Homo sapiens: one gene and its partner. The protein of the gene in region 1 purifies or fractionates together with the protein of each later gene. This does not show direct contact. Each region holds a gene or a part of one and is shown on either strand. Other genes may lie near its edges. The genes, in order: MTG2 and PREP.

Region 1 (10,956 bases):
CAAGCTCAGGCTCCTGACACACAGCACAGGGCAGGGTGGAAAGCTGGTCTGGAAAAGCAAATGGAAGATAGCTCGGCATGCAGTATTACCCCTCGCAGGGTATTATCGTTAGGAATACATTTAAAAGTGGATATATTGGTTGGGTGTGGTGGCTCGCGCCTGTAATCCCAGCACTTTGGGGGGCCGAGGCAGGTGGATTTCCTGAAGTCGGGAGTTCAAGACCAGCCTGGCCAACACGGTGAAACCCCGTCTCTATTAAAAATACAAAAATGAGCTGGGTGTGGTGGTGGGTGCATGTAATCCCAGGTACTCGGGAGGCTGAGGCGAGTGGATCACTTGAACCCATGAGGCGGAGGTTACAGTGAGCCAAGATCCCACCATTGCTCTCCAACCTGGGCTACAAGAGTGAAACTCTGCCTCAAATAAAAAAGAAAAAAAATGGCCAGGGCGTGGTGGCTGATGCTTGTAATCCCAGCAATTTGGGAGGCTGAGGTGGGCGGATCACGAGATCAGGAGTTCAAGACCAGCCTGGCCAACATGGTGAAACCCTGTCTCTACTAAAAATACAAAAATTAGCTGGGCGTGGTGGCATGCAGCTGTAATCCCAGCTACTCGGGAGGTTGAGGCAGGAGAATCCCTTGAACCCGGGAGGCAGAGGTTGCAGTGAGCTGAGATCATGCCACTGCACTCCAGCCTGGGCGACAGAGCGAGACTGTCTCCAAAAAAAATAAAAATAAAAAATAAAAAATAAAATATATACACATACATATATATACATGTATATGTATGTACACAAATTAGCTGAGCGTGGTGATGGGTGCCTGTAATCCCAGCTTCTTGGAACGCTGAAGCACAAGAATTGCTTGAACCCAGGAGGCGAAGGTTGCAGTGAGGTGAGATCATGCTATTGCACTCCAGCCTGGGAGTGAGACAGAGTGAGACTCTTGTCTCAAAAAAAAACCTTTCTGTGATGAGGGCAGTGTTCTAATATGTGCTGTCCCATATGTACCCACTCGTGACATGTGGCTGTGTGCACTTAGATGTTACCTCAGGGACTGAGTTTTTACATTTCAGTTAATTTTAGCCAAATGGCCACATTTGGCCAGTGGGGACTGTGCTGGACAGGTCAAGGACAGCCTTGTTGGAAGGAAAATAAAGACACCAAAGAGCAGCGTGAAAACAGTGGGATTTGTTCATCCGGCAGGGGAGAGAGCACAGCACTCAGCGGGCCTCCAAAGAGAAATTGAAAGGGCAAAAAGGAGGAAGCAAATTAGGCAAGACTCCGAGTTCAGGTCTCTGGTTGGCTTTGCAACCTTCTCTGCGGTTGATCTGCAGGTTCCATGTCACCTGCATCAGGAAGCCTGGTTTCCAGAATATCCGGGCTGGATGGTGTAACGTTCCAGCAGGCTGAGCCGTGGCTATGCTTGTGTTGATGAGCCCGAGTTGTTTTTCCCCAACCTGTTTTTATGCACCACCCCTGAGCCTTCCCATCTGATAGCTCTGGGTTAAGTCTCTTCACCTGTCTGCCCAGTTTCCGCAACTTTAAAATGAGGATGATGAAGGACTTACTTCACAGAGTTTTATGAGGACTGAATGAGTTAATCCCTGAAAAATACTTAGAACAGTATTTTGCAAGTAGTGAGGTAGAGGTCTTGAAGGTTTACTGTGAAATTATTTTCAGGTACTTTTTGTATTTGGCACTACCATAAATGGGGTTTTTTCTTAATTTTAATTTACAGTTGTTTGCGGCTGGTATTTAAGAATACAACTGATTTTTTTATATTAGCCTGATAACATGCCATCTTGCTCAGTTCCCTTCCCTGGGACTTTTTTTTTTGTTTTTTTTTTTTTTTTTTGAGATGGAGTCTTGCTCTGTCACCCAGGCTGGAGTGCGGTAACGTGATCTCGGCTCACGGCAGCGTCTGCCTCCCAGGTTCAAGCGATTCTCCTGCCTCAGCCTCCCGAGTAGCCGGGACTACAGGCACGTGCCACCACGCCTGGCTAATTTTTATATTTTTAGTAGAGATGGGGTTTCACCATGTTGGCCACGCTGGTCTTGAACTCCTGATCTCAAATGATCCGCCCACCTCGGCCTCCCAAAGTGCTGGGATTACAGGCATGAGCCACCGTGCCCAGCCTTCCCTGGGATTCTCTGTGGAACTCTGTCCTCTCTTCTGTAAACAGGGACAGTTTTACTTCTTCCTTTTTTCCCCCTTTATTTCAGTGTGTGAAAGGACATTGTTGCATAGCAGTGGTATGTGTGGAGGCCCTTTTTCTCCATCTTGGGAGGTAACCATTCAGTATTTCTTCATTAAATGTGATTAGCTGTCGGCCGGCCCTACGTAGTGCCCTTATCAGGGCGAAGATGTTCCCGTCTGTTCCCAGTTTGCTGAGATGTTTTGTTTTCCTCCTCATGAGTGGGTGTTGAGACGGTGGTACCACCTGTTGATATAGTGAAGTGCCTGGGCTGAGTTTTGACTGCTTGATGTGGCCTTGTGTTCTGAGATTACCCCTACTAGGTCTTGATGTGTGATCCTTTCTGAACTGCTGGATTCAATTGGGTAATATTTTGTTAAGAGTTATTTGCATCTATATTCATGAGGGGTATGGTCTATAATTTTATTTTTTCTTAGTGTCAGATTTTGGTACTAGCCTCATAGGATGAGTTGGATAGTGATCTCACTTCCTCTATTTTCTGAAAAAGCTTGTGTAAGATTGGCACTGTTTCTTCCTGGAATGTTACATGGAATTTACCAGGAAAACAAGCCGAGCTAGAGTTTTCCTTTGGGGAGTGTTCTTTTATAAGAAATTTAACTTATTGAGTAGATACAGGGCTATTCTAGATTGTTTATTCTTGTGTTTCTTTAATAAGTTGCCTTTTTCAAGAAATTTGTCCATTTCATGTAAGTTGAATTTGTTACTGAATTTGCTGGCATGAAGTCGTTCCCAGCATTCTCTTGCCCTCTGGCTGTCTGTAAGGTGTGTCCTGATAACCCGTTGAACATTCCTGACAGTGGAGGTTTGCGCTCTCTCGTTTTCCTGATCAGGCTAGAAGTGTGTTAGTTAGCTTGTCTTTTCAGTGAACCTGTTTTTTTCTGTTACATGTTATTGTTGTCTCTTTATTTCTGCTCTGTATTATTCTCCTCCTTCTACTCGACGCTTACTTTGCTCTTTCTGGTTTCTTGATTTGGAGCCTTAGGTTACTGATTTTAGATCTTTCTTCTTTACCAAGGTAGCCATTAGAGCTGTAAGTTTCCTTCTAAACACTACTCTAGCTGCATCTCTTAAATTCTGGTATTTCATGGTGGCGGGCGCCTGTAGTCCCAGCTACTCGGGAGGCTGAGGCAGGAGAATGGCGTGAACCCGGGAGGCAGAACTTTCAGTGGGCCGAGATCACACCACTGCACTCCAGCCTGGGCGACAGTGCGAGACTGTCTCAAAAAAAAAAAAAAAAAATTCTGGTATTTTGCATTTCCATTATAATTCAGTTCAAAACATTTTGTAATTTCTCTTTTGATTTCTTCTTTGGCCTATGGATTATTTAGAAGAAGCTTGTTTGATTTGCAGGTATTTGGGATTTTCCTAGATATTTTCTAGCTATTGACTTCCAATTTAATTCCGAGAATAGACCCTGTGGTTGGTATTCATATACTTCCCCCCAGCCCCACCACAGAAGCTCTGTCACACAGGCTGGAGTGCAGTGTGTGATCATGGTTCACTGCAGCCTCCAACTCCTGGGCTTAAGTGATCCTCCCACCTTAGCCTCCTAAGTAGCTGGTATTATAGGCATGCACCACCATGTCCAGCTAATCAGCTAATTTTTTTTTTTTTTTTTTTTTTTTGGTAGACACAAGGTCTCGCTATTTTGCCCAGGCTGTTCTCAAATTCCTGGCCTCAAGTTTTTCTCCTGCCTTGGCCTCTCAAACTGCTGGGATTACAGGTGTGAGCCACTGTACCGGGCCTTTCTGTATACTTCAAGTAATCTCTAGATTATTTATAGTACAATACAATGTAAATGCTATGTAAATAGCTGTTATACTTTATTTTTTAAATTAAAAAAATTGTTGTATTGTTACTGGTTTTTTTGTTTGTTTTCCAGATATTTTTGACGTGAGGTTTGTTGACCCCACAGATACGGAGGACTGACTATGATTTCTTCTCAATGTATTGAGACTTATGACACATCTTATGGTCTGTTTGATGACTTCCACCTGTACCTGAAAACAGTGTATATTGTACAGTTGTTGGATGTACTGTTATGTAAATGTCAACTAGATAAATGTTTTGATAGTATTGTTCAGATTTTATGTCTTTACTGTTTTTATTTTTCTATTTTTAGACAGGGTCTCAGGCCAGGTGTGGTGGCTCATGCTTGTAATCTCAGCACTTTGGGAGGCCAAGACAGAAGGATCGCTTGAGACCAGCCTGGGTAACTGGGAGACCCTGTCTCTGCAAAAAAAATTTAAAAATTAGGCACAGTGGCACTTACCTGTAGCCCCAGCTACTCAGGAGGCTGAGGCAGGAGGATCTCTTAAGTACAGGAAGTCAAGGCTGTAATGAGCTGTGATTATGTCACTGTGCTCCAGCTTGGGTGACAGAGTGAGACTCTGTCTCAAAAAAAAAAAAGAAAAAAAAGTGTCTCTTTCTCTCATTCTATTGCTCAGGCTGGAGTGCGGTGGCATATTCATAGCTCATAGCAGCTTTGAATTCATGGGCTCAAGTGATTCTCCCACCTCAGCCTCCAAAGTAGCTGGGACTATAGGGGTGCGCCACCATGCCCAGCTAATTCCTTTGGTAGAGACAGGAGTCTTGCTATTTTGCCGAGGCTGGTCTCGAACTCATGGCTTCAAGAGATCTTCCCGCCTTGGCCTCCTACAGTGCTGGGATTACAGCCAGGAACTGCTGTGCCCAGCTAGCTCTTTTTAATCCACTTTGTCAACCTCTGCCTTTTAATTAGAATTTGTAAACATTAACTTTTTTTTTTTTTTTTTTTGAGATGGAGTCTCGCTCTGTCTTCCAGGCTGGAGTGCAATGATGCAATCTCGGCTCACTGCAACCTCCGCCTCCCCGTTCAAGCAATTCTCCTGCCTCAGCCTCCTGAGTAGCTGGGATTACAGGCACACGCCACCATGCCCAGCTAATTTTTGTATTTTTAGTAGAGACGGGGTTTCACCACGTTGGTCAGGCTGGTCTCAAACTCCTGACCTCGTGGTCCGCCCGCTTCAGCCTCCCAAAGTGCTGGGATTACAGGCATGAGCCACCGCGCCCAGCCAACATTAACATTTAATGAAATTATTTATATGGTTAGATTTAGGTGCACTTTTATTATTTGTTTCCTATTTGTCCCCTCTGTTTTTTGTTTGTTTGTTCTTTTTCTTTGGAATTGTTGGGCTAGTTCTGAGCATTTCATTTATCTGTTGGCTTTTCGGATCTGTGTCTTTGTGTTGTGTCTTAGTCATTGCTCTGGAGGTTCCAGTCTGCACACCTGTTAGCCTTCACTGTCTGCTCAGAGTTCATACTGTGCCCCTCACAGAAACGTGGGGACCTTGCAGTCATCTGGGTCCCTCGAATCCCCTCCTGACCTTTCTGTTGCCTTTCATGTGGATTACTTCTGTGCGCGTTGGAAGCCAACTACGCAGTATTTTTTTGTCTACAGTCTTACATATTTAAGAACTCCTAAGAGGAAAACAATAGTATTTTATATTTACCAATTCTGTTGCTCTCCCTTCCCTCCTCAAGATCCAGGCTTCCCTCTGGTATCATTTTCCTTCAACCCGAGGAACTTTCTTGAGCATTCCTTATACAGCAGCTGTATTAGTGACAAACTATGTTCGTTTTCTGCCATCTAGAATCTTTATTGCACCTTCGTTTCTGAAAGATATTTTCCCTGCGTATAGAATACCTCGGTGCCTCTTTTCTGACAACACTTAAAAATATCCCTACATAATGGTTAAAAGCAGGGTGGATCCTGGCCTAGATCCTGGACCAGAAGAAGGACGCTCTTGGGAAACTGCTGAGCCCCAAGCCCCACCTGGAGCTCAGTTAGTAGCGGTGCAGCGGCGGCGGCCGCACAGGCACGGCTGCGGGGGCACTGGGGAGGAAGTCCGCAGGGATGCCTTTGCACCTTGTCCACAAATCTAAAACCATCTCAAAATCAGCTGTCCTGTAAAATATATTTACAGGAAGGGTATCAAGGGGAGGGTGTCCCATGGAGAGGTGGCCCGGCACGGGAACTCAGCCAGTCGGAGAACAGAGACCCGCTAAAGAATGGGGAGCTCTGGGAGCAGGCGGGGAGGTGGAGCTGAGGGCGGGTCACAGCAGGTAGGGGTTGAGCAGCTCCATAAATATCTTAAAGTGCATGGAGGCCCGGTTTCTTATAGGCGGAGAATGGAGTTACCAAGACCACAAGAGAAAATTAGAATGACCCCAGAGTGCTGAATTGGGAATGAGGACGTCCTGTGCACAGCTGGCCTGCTGCCTCCCACGTGTCAGGGCTGGCTCGGGAGTCAGGAGAGGCTGAGGAACCTTCCAGCCCAAGGAGCTGGACAAGGTGTGGCAGCTGCAGGCAGCCGGGATAGGGACGCAGACTTTCCTACAGGGAGAGGCACTGCTGAGACCGGGGCCCACGTGGGAGGGGCTGTCGGTCATGGCCAGTCTCAATGACACCCTGGTTCTGGAGGGGACACCATTTTCTCTAGGAAACACACATGGACTGTTCTGGGTGCAGGGAAGTCCAGTCGGCGACTGACTCTTAAGTGATTCAGGAGGAAGTTCTTTGTACTCTTCTTCCAGCTTTTCTGTAACTGTGATTGCCTCAGAATTAAAGCAGAATGGCCAAGGACCCCACAGAGATAGTGACCCCCCCAAAGGAGGTGGCACCTTTTCAGAGGAGTGAGGCTGGGGAGAGGGAGGCGTCCGAGGCACTGCGAGGGAGGAGGCAGGCGGTGTCCCCTCGTTGTGCTCCCGCTCTGGCCCCGTGTTGAGTTTTCAGCCGTCCACTGGGGCCCCTTCTGTACACATCTTTTGTAGTCAGGATGGGGAGCACCTTGTAAGGTCCCTCCTGTGCGACCTGCTGAAGACTGGGGAGCTCTGGGAGCAGGCAGGTATTTGTGCTCATGGTGAAGGGAGAGGGGCTGTCCTCTCCTGGAGGGCAGGGTCAGGACTTCCTCACTGTGCCCTTGGCACCTGCAAGGTAGCCGGCTGTCATGAGCGGCTTGTTGAATGAGTGACAGCTTAAATGAGGCTTTGAGAGTGACAGTAGCTGGCACTTAGAGTCTGCAGCTGTGCCAACCCTGTCGCTCCGGGGATATTTCCACCCACACTACACATCAGGCACCAAATGTGTGGGTTTTCCACACCAACAATTCGCCAGTCCTCTGCAGACACCAGCCAGGCATCCTGTAATTCAGTTCAGTCTGACCCTGCCGCGGTTATCAGGGACCCCAGCGTTAGGGGCTCAGTCACCCCCCACTTCAGATGCTAATTGCAAGTAGTGGGTCCCTGGGGTACCCACACTTCTGTCCATCTTGGCTACACATTGGGAGTTCCTACGACCCCTTCAGGTTTGATGATTTGCGGTAGTGGCTCACAGAACTCAGGAAGGCACTTGGTTTGCATTGCCAGTTTACTATAAAGGATGCCACAGCGGGCACAGGCAGGCAGCTGGGTGAGGAGGGGCACGGGCGAGGCCCAGAGGGTCCTAAGCATAGGAGCCTTTGTCCCCAGGGAGTTGTGTGGCTGGCCTTACAGCACGGGGATGAGTTCACCAAACTGAAAGCTTTCCAGAGCCCCTAGTTCCAGGATTTCCATGGAGGCCTCATCATGGAGACATGATCAGTTATGAACTCAGCCTCCAGCCCCTCTGCCCTTTTTGGAGGGTGGGGGTGGGGCCGAAAGGTCCAGGCTTCTCATCGTGGCTTGGTCTTTATGATGACCAGCCCCCTCCCAAGGCCATCCAGGAGCCCACCAAGAGGTGCCTCATTAGAACAGAAGACTCTCCTGTCACCTGGGAAGTCCAAGGGATTTAGGAGCTCTGTGTCAGGCACCCCTATCGCCCCTGTCACTCAGGAAATTACCAGCGTTCTGAGAGCTCTGTGTCAGGAGCCAGGAGCAGGGGCCAAGTGTGTTCTTCTCATTCTATCGGTGCCACAGCCAGGGCCGCGGTTGTGCAGCCGTGTGGATCAGCTCAGCCCGTCCTCACCCAGCCGTGTGAGGAGGCCGAGGCCACACAGGTGGATGGCCTTCCCTTAGAGTTACTTTCCAGAGCCTGGGTGCTTAGCCGCTATGCCCCATGTTTAATATTCTTGTGTTCCAATGTAACAACTTTAAAATTACACAGGATAACACTCTTGATAACATTTTAATAAATGGGTGTTTTTCTTTTCAAGAAATTTTGACTTGCACTTCAGATTTCCTTTTTAATATTTTCGTTGAGCGGAACCTTGCTATTCCATAAGAGGATGTGTCCAGTGTTGTGGAAGATTTCATGTTTTAAATCCTTTGTACAGAAATCCTGCTCCCAAGTCACAGATAGGCTGACGGGTCAGAGGGCAAGACGTGACCCAGGGCCGAGAGGGTGAGTGACCAGGAAAATCGGATTCATCAGTTCACTTGTTTGTTTCAGAAACGTGCACAAAGACCTGCTGCATGAGGCCCTCGTCTTCAGTTTCTGTTTCATGCCCAGCATTAAACCAAGTATCTCATTTTGCCAATTTGACTTCTGTAGGGGCCATGGCACCTGCAAGGTGTTTCTCAGCAAGATTGAGGACCGTGTTTCAGGGCGTGGGGCATTGGGCTTTGTCCACATGGGCTGGCCTGAAGCCCAGCCGGCTACTGCCACAGCGGGCTTCTCCCAGGCTGCTCTCGGTCGGCCGTGCGGACCTCGCCAAGCATCAGGAACTCCCGGGGAAGAAGCTGCTCTCTGAGAAAAAGCTGGTGAGACTCCTGGAGTTAGAGCAGCTTGCCTGTCTCCTCCTCAGAAGGCACAGGGTGTGGTTTCGGGTCCTCCTCTGGGTCTCATCTCTGTTGATGTTAGTTGATGATCTTAGTGATGGGGCACGTGGAGCTTCTTGAAAATGACAGGGTGAAACGCAGGCCTGCGTGCTAAATCCCACGCTCAGCAAATCCCAGCAGGCTGGGAGAGGCGCTGCGTGCTTGGAAAGCCGTGATACAGGCTGCTCATTTTCCCATGAGCCTGTGTATTTTACATGTATGTTACATATATCCTTTCATATGTGTGGCTATTTCTTAATTTAAAACAAATGCGGAGGCTGGGCACGGTGGCTCATGCCTGTTATCCCAACACTTTGGGAGGCTAAGGCAGGCGGATCACTTGAGGTCAGGAGTTCGAGACCAGCCTGGCCAACATGGTGAAACCCTGTCTCTACTAAAAAAAAAAAAAAAACCTTTTTAAATTAATAAATAAATAAAAATAAAACAAGTAGGGGGGAATATACCTTCCGTTTTATGGTTCTTTAAGCCTTATAAGTTTTTCTTGTTCTATTTACCAAAACCTCCTATTTAAAGCATGAATTGTCTCTAATAAATTCAAGAAAATGCACGTTTATGACTCCCTTCGTTTCCTGCTGAATGGAGGGGCTCCAGATAAGCATTACTGGGACAAACAGCACTTCCAGTGGAAAAGCCGCTTTGGTGGGATGTGTGCTCAAATAGCTGAAGCGTTAGCACAGGCTTGTCTCCTCCCCAGGAGAGAAAGTGAGTCGAGGTTTTGTCCTCCACGAAGTGCTCACCAGTGGGGCTTTCCTCCCTGTCTGGTGGATTTTGCTTGCGTTGGCGCATGACAGCATTACACATTGAAATTTGGAAATAACAGTTCGTGGTTTTCCCACATGGTGGTGCCAAAGAATCTTAGAATGTTTGTGTTTTAAATTTTTAAATTTTTTTTTGTGTTTAAATTTTTGTGTTTAAAAATTTTAAATGTTTTAAAATTTTCTTTTAAAAGAAAAAAAAACTGCATTTGAGGAGTATTGGATCGGAGTGCAGAGGCAGCAGCCCTGGGTGGCTGTCAGGGGCAGGGCACGTCTGTCTGTGCACGTGGGCAGAAGCCAGGTGTCCTCCCCAGCGTGTGGTGAGGTTGCAGCACCCTGGGCTGCGGGAGCTGACCCTCCTGTGGTAGGAGCTGTTGTGTGTTGAACAGTAACCTGGTTGGTTCTCTCTCTTCATCCAGATTGCACCTACCTTAGTGACCTACAGAACAGCTTTCCTAGCCGGGCACAGTGGCTCACGCCTGTAGTCCCAGCACTTTGGGAGGCCGAGGCGGGTGGATCACGAGGTCAGGAGATCGAGACCATCCTGGCCAACACGGTGAAACCCCGTCTCTACTAAAAATACAAAAAACTAGCCGGGCGCAGTGGCGGGTGCCTGTAGTCCCAGCTACTTAGGAGGCTGAGGCAGGAGAATGGCATGAACCTGGGAGGCAGAGCTTGCAGTGAGCCGAGATCCCACCGTTGCACTCCAGCCTGGGCGACAGAGCGAGACTCTGCCTCAAAAAAAACCACAAAAAACAAAACAGCTTTCCCTCCAGCGAGGGGCTCTGTTTGCCTCACCACATTTTTTAAATGAGCCCTGTTTTCATCAGGCCCCAGAAAATACTCTTTCTTCAGAGTCGAAAGCCTGGTAATTGTCCAGGAACGATTCTAACTTCCTATTTCTCTATCGCATCCTGGGAAACTAGAACTTTCTAAGAGTAAAGATCTATGATTTCAGGAATGGTTTTTTTGAATGGAAAGACACATTATATAAGGAATATTTCCTAAACAAGATGTGGGTTTTTTAGCTTAGAAATGCTGATTTTTGTTGTTGGTTTTTAAATCAGTCTCACCCAGAGTAAGAAATGCTGAATTTTTGAAGTGTAGGTCCACACAGAATACTTACATCTGCATTGTGGATTTACCTCAGTCTACAAATGCAACTGACTTGTGGAGACTGTTTTTTATC
Region 2 (10,956 bases), on another chromosome or scaffold:
GCTACCTCACCACCCAATTCCTTTTGTTCTTTCCATTAATAACCGAGGGCAAGACTGGGGAATTTCTTTCTCCCCATCACCGACCATGTCAGACTCCTGCAGAGGTGGGGTGGGAAGCGTGCCTCTGCAGAGCGCTTCCACCTCCGTCTTCGCGGGGAGGGGAGACACGAGCACTCCCACAGCCAGCTCCGGCTCGGGTGCTGGGTGCAACCTAGAGGACTAAACACTGCTGCAGGTCTTGCTTTATATTTGTAAGTTCAGCTTCCCAAAATACAGGTTCCTTGTGATGCCATGCTTCTATCCTTTCATTATCATACATCTCTCATAACCGACCATCTGTTCCCTTTGGGGCATTTCCCGTTTAAGTTCTAGAGGCTTTTAGAAAAATACAGATCCACCATATGGATTAGCATTGTGGTATTGATGATATATTTCCACAGTGCATAACAGAACTTAAATTGAGGCTTTTTTTTAAATGCAGTGTTAACCCATGGTTTTTAAGTTAATCAGTATTTGAAACCGTGCTCTATCATTTGAATTCCCATTAGATTAAACTTATTTTTATGTTTTGTTAATTAACTATCTTCCACTTTGGCACACTGTAGGTGGTATCTTGGCCAACAAACAAAACTGCTTTGATGACTTTCAGTGTGCTGCTGAGTATCTGATCAAGGAAGGTTACACATCTCCCAAGAGGCTGACTATTAATGGAGGTTCAAATGGAGGCCTCTTAGTGGGTGAGTACTGGATTTTATTCATTGCACTTACTAGTTAGCCCTCTTGGGGTTTTCAGATACACCATCTGTAGGCAGCTCTTGACTTAACTTTGTGGATAGGACCACAAAGTGGTATAAGGAGAGCAAAACCCATTTGTACCATTTGTATTTGGGTATCTGATAAATGACATACGAAGAGACCCTATTTATTTTGCCTTGGGCAGGTCCTGAGATCTTGAACAAGTCCCTTAATCTCCCTCATCACTGTGAAAGCAAGTGGGGATGGGAGGAGGGGATACAGGGTTTCCAGAAAGTCCTCAAGCTTTTCAAGATTCACTTTGGGGAGTAAAGCTCCATTACTGATGAGAATCCCCACCCCCTCTGACAGATCTCAGAGTGGGTGGGGAGCTTTGGGGCTATTGGGCAGGTGATTTCTGATGGTTTCCTCTTGTGCTCTGGATAAATGCAACCAGGGCTCTGGAAGCATGTAAGTAAGTATTGCCTTGCCTTGTTTATGTAGATGTTTAATGATAGACTGCCTCCCTTTTCTTTCTACGTTGGGCTTTTAGCTGCTTGTGCAAATCAGAGACCTGACCTCTTTGGTTGTGTTATTGCCCAAGTTGGAGTAATGGACATGCTGAAGTTTCATAAATATACCATCGGCCATGCTTGGACCACTGATTATGGGTGCTCGGACAGCAAACAACACTTTGAATGGCTTGTCAAGTAAGGTTTTATTGACATATATATGTTGTTAGTGGTTTGATATAAAGTTGAACACAGTCACAGCAGGATTAGTGCTTGAGCTTTGTCACTGTCAGGGTCTTGCATTTGCATATAATCTGCTGGAGAGGAGATGGGACTACCTACTTGTCTTTCTTGATTTAATATGGTCTTGAACAAAAGCAACAAACTACAAAAAATGTGGTAGGGCAGAATTCTACAGATGGCCTCCCAAGATTCCTACCCTGGTTATTCAAACACTTACCTAGATACTGCTTGCTGTCAGGGAGCAGGATATTCATCTGCTGCTCTTTGGATTATCTCTTGAGGGGTCCCAAATCACATAAACCCTTAAAGGCTGAGCACATTCTCTGGCTGGAGTCAGGGATGCAGCAGAAAGGGAGGTCAGAGAAATTGGAAGCTTGTAAAGGATTCAGCCTGCCATTGCTGGTTTTGACAATGGAGGAAGGGGGACCTCTAGAACCTGAGAGCAACCCCCAACCAATAGCCATCAAGGAAACAGGACCTAAGTCCCACAGCCGCACAAAACTAAATTCTGCCAACATCCCGAGACTGCAAGTAGGTTTTTTCCAGAGTTTCCCCGTAAGAGTCCAACCAGCCAACACCTTGACTTTGACCTTCTTTGACCTTGGAAGACCCAGAGCAGAGAACCCAGCTGAGCCAACCCAGACTGCTGGCTTACAGAACTGTGAGATAAGAAGTCTGTGATGTTTCAAGCTGCTAAAATTTGTGGTAATTTGTTACTGTAACAATCAAAAGGTATTATTATACTTTATATCAAATATATGGGATTTCCTTTTCTAAATTAAGTAAAGAATATATGCTCCTGAAATGGCAGGTCAAGAGTAGGGGAAGGGGGTGTTGAGTATGGTGGCTCATACCTGTGATCCCAGCACTTTGGGAGGCCAAGGTAGATCACTTGAGCTTAGGAGTTCAAGACCAGTCCTTCATGGGCAATGTGGTGAAATACTGTACTGTCTCTACAAATAATTAGCTGGGCATGGTGATGCATGCTTGTAGTCCCAGCTACTCGCGAGGCTGAAATGGAAGGATGGCTTGAGCCTGGGGGGACAGTGAGCCAAGATCACACCACTGCATTCCAAGACCCTGTCTCAAAAAAAAAAAGGAATATATTCAAATACAATTAAACTTCTTTTATGCTCAATATAGCTACATATGTTTGAAACTGCAAGTTGCATTATTGAAATCTTACACAACTTCCATTGTATCCTGCAACCACTATGCTGATAACAATGAGTAAACAGACATTAAAACTTCTTTTTGGCCCTTCATTCCCCATATGTAAGAGTTTTATTTTTAATCACCAGTGTTTGGCTCTCAGACTGGCACAAGAAGCCTGTTCCTCCTATTAGTAAACTACAAATTTTGATGAAAATAACTTTAGTTTCTAAAGTTTTGTTTTTTTGAGACAGAGTCTTGCTCTGTCACCCAGGCTGGAGTGGAATGGCGCCATCTCGGCTCACTGCAACATCGCCTCCTGGGTACAAGCAGTTCTCAGTTCTCATGCTTCAGCCACCTGAGTAGCTGGGACGACAGGTGCGCACCACCGCACACGGCCAAGTTTCTAAAGTTTGCTCTTTCATTTTGTTTGCTTTTTATGGCTAGCCTCTCCAGTTTGAAATATACTTAAAATGACTGAATTTTTTTTAACTGGATACTTTACTAAACTCTATTCTCTAAGGGGAAACAAAGTTCACTATGAAAGTTATTACTTTTCAGTACATGCAGGCCTCATTGACACACATTGGTAGAAGCTATATATTTGAAGAAGGAATATCTAACTTAGAGAAAATTTGCACGTAAGGAAACAAGTCCTATTTAAACTCATTTGAAAATACTGAGTTAATTGAAGGCAAAAGAATATTAGATGACACCTAATACTTTCAAACTTAATTTAAAAACAAAGAAAGTTCTAAATATTTTTCTCCATGATGTTCCTTCTTCAGTTTTCAAATCTTGCTCTCACAGGGCTGCATTTCACCTGCGGCTGGTAAAATGAGCATGGAACTCAGCCCACACTAGCTAGGAAGGGTCCTACAGGGAGCTCCTCAAGCCCAGCACACCTCCCCGCCCCCTGGGCTGTGCCTCATGGAGCACCATCCAGAATTAGTAAAAGGTGTTTCCCCAAAAAAAGAGCTAGAGCTCCAAGTTTGAATGGCTGGGCGATAAATAAAGCCTAATGTATTTTTTCCTACAGATAATGTATAAATATTGCATGTGAATCTCCAAGGGGGAGATTGTTATTATTAACAGGCAGGGTTTTCCAAACTTGTTTCTTTTTAGAACTAACCCATATTTGGAAGAATGGGGCTGGTCAAAAGACACTCTTAAATGAGATCAGAAAACAGATCTCCATCTTATCTGGTGGGAAACTGAGCCCAAGAATGTTTTGGCCTCACGTTGGTTAACTGAGCAGAATTTTTACTGTTTTCACTATTTACCTACCCTTCAAAATAAAACTCTACTAAAACAGGTGATTTTATTCATTAATAAATATTAAATACATTGAAAAACATGACACCCCTATTAGGAGAATGTAAAGAAAAAATATCCAGATATTTCAACTATTATCAGTCACTGTTAAAATCAACATTACTTTTATACTTAACACCCTTTTTGTTAACTTACCCAGGAAACTTGCCTGGTACTTCGGAAGGTGCCCTCCTCCTCTGGCAAAGTCTGTTGCTTTCTGCCGGACTGAGAGCCAGCAGGAGGCTCAACAGCCCATCCAGGTTTCTCGGTTTACAAAGAAACTAGGCCCAGAGAGGACATGTGCTTTTCCTAAGATTGCAAAACTGAGCCTGGAATAAAGGCTTTATAGATGTTATTAAAGGGGCAGCAAGCCCCTTTATACTGTGGATTTCAAGTTTCTCAACAAAAGAAAGGCTTGGACTTTTTTTGAACCACTGAGTGTGGTTATAATGACAATTATTACTCCACTTTGTAGCAGTAAAAAAAAAGCCTAGAGAATATGAAACTACTCACCTTAAGAGACAGTAAGCATGCCTGTGATTTGGGTTGTTTCAACAGACCTGTGAGCTTCCTTCCTACAGTCTTTCAAAGTTGGAGCCACATAAATGACACAGCTCCCCAGTTTCCAGGAGCCCTTGCCAGTCATGGCCTAAATGGTAACGCATAGGCACAGTCCATGGTGGTCACTCACGTACTAGTTAACTGCAGTCCTCACTGCTAATTAACTACCTAGGTCCCTGTGCCATAAAACTCTACTGTTGCTCTCCAGCCTCACAAAGGTGTTTTTGCCTTCCAGATACTCTCCATTGCATAATGTGAAGTTACCAGAAGCAGATGACATCCAGTACCCGTCCATGCTGCTCCTCACTGCTGACCATGATGACCGCGTGGTCCCGCTTCACTCCCTGAAGTTCATTGCCACCCTTCAGTACATCGTGGGCCGCAGCAGGAAGCAAAGCAACCCCCTGCTTATCCACGTGGACACCAAGGCGGGCCACGGGGCGGGGAAGCCCACAGCCAAAGTGATAGAGGAAGTCTCAGACATGTTTGCGTTCATCGCGCGGTGCCTGAACGTCGACTGGATTCCATAAACAGTTTTCGTGCTTCCTCCTGACAGCGACAGAAAACCTCAAGGGCTTTCCCACGTTGACACCAAGAAACCACTGGGCATAATGCTTCCCCACGGGAACATTATTCCTGCACTCACAGGCTACAGTTGAACAGAACTGCCGTGGGAATTTTATCTTTTTTAGGCTTCTCCTTTTTAGCAAGGCCTTGGTGTTTCTTTTTCCACCCTGTCTAGGCACATGTGGTTTTTTGGTGTTTTTTTTAAGGGCATGTTGGGATAAATAGCTAAATGGCAACAAACACATTGTGAATATTAGATTGCTGAATTAAGGATCATAGTCGGGCATACTTATCTATATCCATAACCTCTATATCTTTAAATAAATGTGAGAACTGTTCTCATGGAGAAGACTTCTTTGCAACAATAATAAATGTTATTTAAGAATGACAGGCTTTTACTTCCGGTTTCTTCATATTGAGGGGCAACTCCAGAAGTGGAGTTTTCTGTGAGAATAAAGCATTTCACCTTTCTGCAACAAGTTAGTTTTCAAGCAGTTAAGTCATAGAATGTTTGTTAGCTTTGAAAATAAGTTGTTCATCCACTCTGTCTCCCTTGTTTGTTTGTTTGTTAGAGGTGATGAAGCTGTCAGAGGGGGTTCACTGTCATAAACAAACACTGACCACTTAGTTGGGTAAAAATCTGATCTGGGGCTCTTTTGGTTTGGATGCCTCCTTTCAAAAATCACTGGGCTGGAAAATTCAGATTATTCACCTATTTGTATATTGATTTGTTTACAAAGTATTCCTAGAAATCAGAGTTCCTTGGATCCAAGGATCCTTGGTTCCAAGAGATCACATGAGTAAATTATCCAAACAAACAGATACATATATCCAAGCATTTCTTACAGTCAGAAATTTCAGCATTTCCCAAGCTGTTTCTCCTGCATAGATCACTCCTGGAAATAGAAATAGTCATACTTACTTACTGGAAAAAAAAAAAAAAAAGTTTTGGTTTGCCCACCCCCAAGATTTTTAAGATATACTATTCCTTAAACTTTCATCCATAAAATTTTTTTCAAGGCATATATTTTAACATTTCATGAAACAATGTTCCTTTGAGTATCAGTTTGGGAAATGCTGATCTAACTTAAAACAGTTTTTTTTCCTTTGTCTTGCTTTATCAGATGATATGATAAAAATTATTATTTTATATAGTATCTTAACCTTATATAAAATAGCTTAAAAGATTACTTCATTATTCCAATAATTTGTACTTTTCCAAGTAAGTCCCATCTTCCAAGTTGTATATGTATGTGCTTTTAAGAGCACTCTCTCATTCTCTACGTTTCAAGTTATGGTCAAAAATTAGACATACCATTTTCTATCAAGCATATCACTGCATACCAAGCATATTGAAAGACAGCTATATGGCTTGGTTTTTCTCTACTGGAATCATGTTTTCCGTTACTATTTAGTACGGTACATAATACAGTTGTCATTGAGTATAAGATTCACCATAACTCCTCTGGAAACAAAGTGTGCCAGTAGCTAGTGTTGCATGCTGAGACTCTGTCGTCATCACCATCTACTCAGATACTGATACTAGCTAGCTTTGGTGTAACTGCTGACCAGCATGGCAGGAAAGAAAGAAAATACATTTGCATGGTCAAGCCAGAGGCAGCCTCTTTCCTAGACTAGCTGTGTGGTGTGAAGTACAAATAGCTGAGTTGGACCCACTGAGTCCAGAGCATTTTCAAGGTTGCACAGAATCTAACCATACTTTCTGAGGTCTGCTTTACAGCAGAAAATACAGTGTGTAGTGTGTGAGCTTCAGATATCAGGACTGGGTTCAAATCCCAAATGTCACTTAGCAACTGATGAGGAGGAGGAGGAATACAGTAATACGTTTTTAATGCCTAGCATGATTGGCCTCCAGTTACGAGTTCTCTTTTCCAACCTAATTTTTGTGTCTAGATTTTCACAGGACAACTAATCCCACCAACTAAAGGTATTTTGGGGAGTAGGGGGAGCTTTAAACATTAGAAATAAGACTTGAGATTGGGCTCCTACCCAGAACTCTAAGGGATTCTTCTCTATTTGATCCCACTTTTCTGTATCCTGTGCTCTGCCCTTTGGCTCTTTCTTATGATTACTCTCTTCTAGCTATTTTGAAATGCACAGTAGATTATTGTAAACTATAGACACCCTACTGATCTAACACTAGGTCTTCTTTCAAACTGTATATTTGTAGGCATTAATCTCTTCATCCTCCCTTTCTCTGCCTGCTTTTTTAGCTCCCACATGAGTGGAGAACATGGGATATTTGTCTTCCTGTGCCTGGCTTATTTCACTTACCATATTGACCTTCAGTTCCATCCATGTTGCTGCAAATGACAGGATCTCAGTCTTTTTCATGGCTAAATCATATTCCATTGTATATATGTACCACATTTTCTTCATCTGTTCATCTGCTGATGGGCACGTGGGTTGATTCCCTATCTTGGCTGTTGTGGATAGTGCTGCAGTAGACACAGGAGTGCAGATATCTTTTTGATATACTGATTTCCTTTCTTTTGGATTCATACCCAGTAGTGGAATTGCTCGATCACAGAGGACTTATATGTTTAGTTTTTTTAGGACTGTTTTGAAAAAGAAAAAGTTGTACATGTTGCACAGGTGGCCTCACTGCTTTGTCACAAGGCCCTGCTAAGCACACCAGAGCATTTGTTACCTTAGCAAGATAAAGTCACATTTATGTTCACTATGGACTTACCTGGAATATTATAAAACTTTCCAATTAATCATGTTTCTTAAATACTCCCACTAAAGCTTAAGCAGCTACACACACATGGTGCTACAAGTTTGAAAAGGATAAGTTTCAACTAAGGAAGCCTGTCACCAGTCTCTCAAGGTTTGTCAGTTTTACCAGCCTCTGGAAGTTCCCAGCAGGCCACATAGCTAATGCCCAGAAGGAGTTGCAAAGACTCAAAGGCAGGTTAAGGACAGGCTGGAAAGCTGTGGAGGTTGCTGTAAAGAGGCAAAGGTCATACTGTTGGGGTGGTCAGGCCAGTGGGATGAGGACTGAGGCCCTTGAAGGAGGAACATTGAGCCATTCTCATCCTCCATATCTCAGGGGCTGAAGGTGCAGAGAGAAAATGTCCTGCCCTCATCCAGTTGATATTCCAGGGAGGAGACAGATGGTAAATTATCTTGCTCATGTTTACCCTGTGCCACCCGCTGCAAGCACTCTGTGTGGATGAATGTTTGTCCTCACACAACCTTAGGAAGCACATAATACCTTTTCCCCATTTGGCAAAGGTCCAAGTTCCCCAGCCAGGAGGTGGGCAGGCAGGGCAGTAACCCCAGGAGCTGGGCCTTGGATACTGCACTCTTTTTTTGGGATGGAGTTTTGCTGTTACGGCCCAGGCTGGAGTGCAATGGCGCTATCTCAGCTTACTGCAACCTCCACCTCTTGGGTTCACGTGATTCTCCTGCCTCAGCCTTCCCAGTAGCTGGTATTACAGGCGCATACCATCATTCCCGGCTAATCTTTTTGTATTTTTAGTAGAGATGGGGTTTCACCATGTTGGCCAGGCTGGTCTTGAACTCCTGACCTCAGGTGATCCACCCACCTCAGCCTCCCAAAATGCTGGGATTACAGGCATGAGCCACCATGCCCAGCCGAAACAGCTCTCTTACTGCTGTTGTCTGAGTGTTTATGTCCTCCCCGAAATGTATATGTTGAAATCGTAAATCCCAAAGTGATGGAATTAGGAGGCAGGGCCTTCAGGAGGCGATGGGTCATGAGAGCGGAATCCTCATGAATGGGACTGGTGCCTTTATATTAGAGCCCAAGGAGAGACCCCCCCGCCCCATCCCTTCCACCATGTGAGGACACAGGAGACGGTGTCACCTATGAACCAGGAAGCAACCCTCATTAGACACCAAATCTGCCAGTGCCTTGATCTTAGATGTCCCAGACTCTAGGACTGTGAGAGAGCAATTTCTGTTGTTGACAACCCACCAGTTTATGGTATTTTCTTATAGCAGCTTAAACAGACTAAGATACCCACGAGTCTATTAACAAGATAATAAACAAAGTATAATTTCAGGAATTAACAAGAAACAGGAATAAAAAGAGCTGTGAAGAAACAAAGTGGGGCAAATGAATAGTCCGTGAGAAGGAATGCTATTTGAGTCGAGGTCAGGGTGCCTCTTTCAGGAAGCAACATTCGGACAAAGACCCGAACGGAATGAGGGGACAAACAATGGGCAACGTTTTGGGGGTTGGTGAGGACAGCAGCAATGGGCAGAGCCTGAGGCAGGAACCAGCCAGGCCTTTGGAGGAAGAGCAGGAAGCCAGTGTGGGGGGAACAGGGAGCCAGGCGAGGCCTGGAGGATACACTAGAGATGGCAGGCAGCTCAGTCAGGTGAAGCCACTGAGAGATGAAAGCCGACAACACTGTGGGAAACTGACAGCAGGAGAGCCTAGGGAAAAGCGGGGTGGTTATTCAAAGAGCAGGTTGCTTAGCACCTTTAAGGAATTTTGGGGGTGGGGGCAGCAGGAACCCACCATCACAAAAATCACTGACATGCCATATCATGGATGAATCTCAAAAACATTATAAGTGAAAGAAGCCAGACACAAATGACTGGGTATAGTCTGATTAAGTGAAATATCCTGAAAAGGCAGTTCTATAAAGATAGAATGTAGATTAGTGGGTACCTGGAGTTGGTGGTGAAGATGGTAATTAACTACTTGGGCATAAAGGATCTAACCGGGATGACAAAAATGTTCTAAAACTGGATTTCAGTAACGGTTGCACAACCTGGTAAATGTATTAAAAAGTCATTGAATTGTACACTTGAAATGTATGAATTTTATGGTTTGTAAATCATAATGTTATCGAAATAATCTCTGGTAGTGAAATAAAGAGAAAAAAGAGCAATGACCCTTTCTGGATGAGTGCCATCCAGGAATAGCCACCTGGAGAACTGCAGAGTCAAGTAAGAAAGGCAGGTGACCAGGGGCAACTGAGATAAAAGCTTGCATATCAGGCTTAGGCAAAGAGGATGAGGGCTATTTTGAGCAGCCGTCTTTAGGTCAGGGTTCACATTTGCAGGCAAAACTGTCCCTCTCTCTCTCTGAGTTTGCTCCTGTAGATCAAATATCAGGCCGGCTGATAGGGTGTCCTGAGAATATGCCCTGCATCCACCTTACAGGCTTTGCTCTGCTCAGGAGCTCAGGGCCTCCTGCAGCCACGTGACCGCAGCACTGAGAAGCAGGCAGGGGGAGGCACGGGCAAGGAGGGTTCGTTCAATGCCAAGTAAGTGACTAAGGAAGCTCTTGTTTACTGTGCAAGAGAAAATGACTTGGTGGCCATTTGTGGAGGTTATTAATGCCAAATAATCTAGAAATTATAAACAAAATATCATAATGGTAATATATGATTTAGAAACTGATTTACATCTAATTGACACAATATTATAGTGTCTTCCAGTTCCAAAGTATGAAAGGCTTTGAGAAACATCAGAGGAAAGAGCTTCCAGTCACCTCTATGGAGAGTCAAACTGAGGTTAACCTGAAAACCAAATCAGCATCAAAACATAACCACCCTAAAACTCCAGAGAAAATGATGGAAGTTAATACAGGTAGCACTGAGTTATTTCCCCAGGACATTCAGGTGTTGGCGCTGTGATTGGCATTTTTCCAGAGGACCAGGTTGCCTGCAACCTCAGGCCCCAGAAGATGCAGGAACCTGAACACCAGGGCCACCCCCTGCTCTGTCACTACTCTGGTCTTGCCTTGGAGTGTGAAATGCTGCAATTCATCCAAGATACAGTCATGCAGCATATAACATTTCTGCATATGACTGCATGTATAATGATAGTCCCATAAGATTATAACAAGCTGAAAAATTCCTATCACCTAATG

The links.
Region 2: the proteins of MTG2 (region 1) and PREP purify together in Homo sapiens (affinity purification with mass spectrometry; 2 studies listed by BioGRID and IntAct, with this or other methods). This does not show direct contact.

Annotation. Positions count from the first base shown.
Region 1 is NC_000020.11:62,184,691-62,195,646, forward strand, and holds part of MTG2 (mitochondrial ribosome-associated GTPase 2), read left to right. Parts: intron 1-3,843; exon of another isoform or gene 3,844-4,148; coding exon of another isoform or gene 4,149-4,191; intron 4,192-4,818; exon of another isoform or gene 4,819-8,646; coding exon of another isoform or gene 8,647-8,730; coding exon 8,731-8,934; coding exon of another isoform or gene 8,935-8,988; intron 8,989-10,186; exon of another isoform or gene 10,187-10,323; intron 10,324-10,956. UniProt on the Homo sapiens protein: Plays a role in the regulation of the mitochondrial ribosome assembly and of translational activity. Displays GTPase activity. Involved in the ribosome maturation process.
Region 2 is NC_000006.12:105,272,232-105,283,187, reverse strand, and holds the end of PREP (prolyl endopeptidase), read left to right. Parts: intron 1-605; coding exon 606-737; intron 738-1,285; coding exon 1,286-1,442; exon of another isoform or gene 1,443-2,567; intron 2,568-4,109; exon of another isoform or gene 4,110-4,172; intron 4,173-4,749; coding exon 4,750-5,044; 3' UTR 5,045-9,970; downstream 9,971-10,956. UniProt on the Homo sapiens protein: Cleaves peptide bonds on the C-terminal side of prolyl residues within peptides that are up to approximately 30 amino acids long.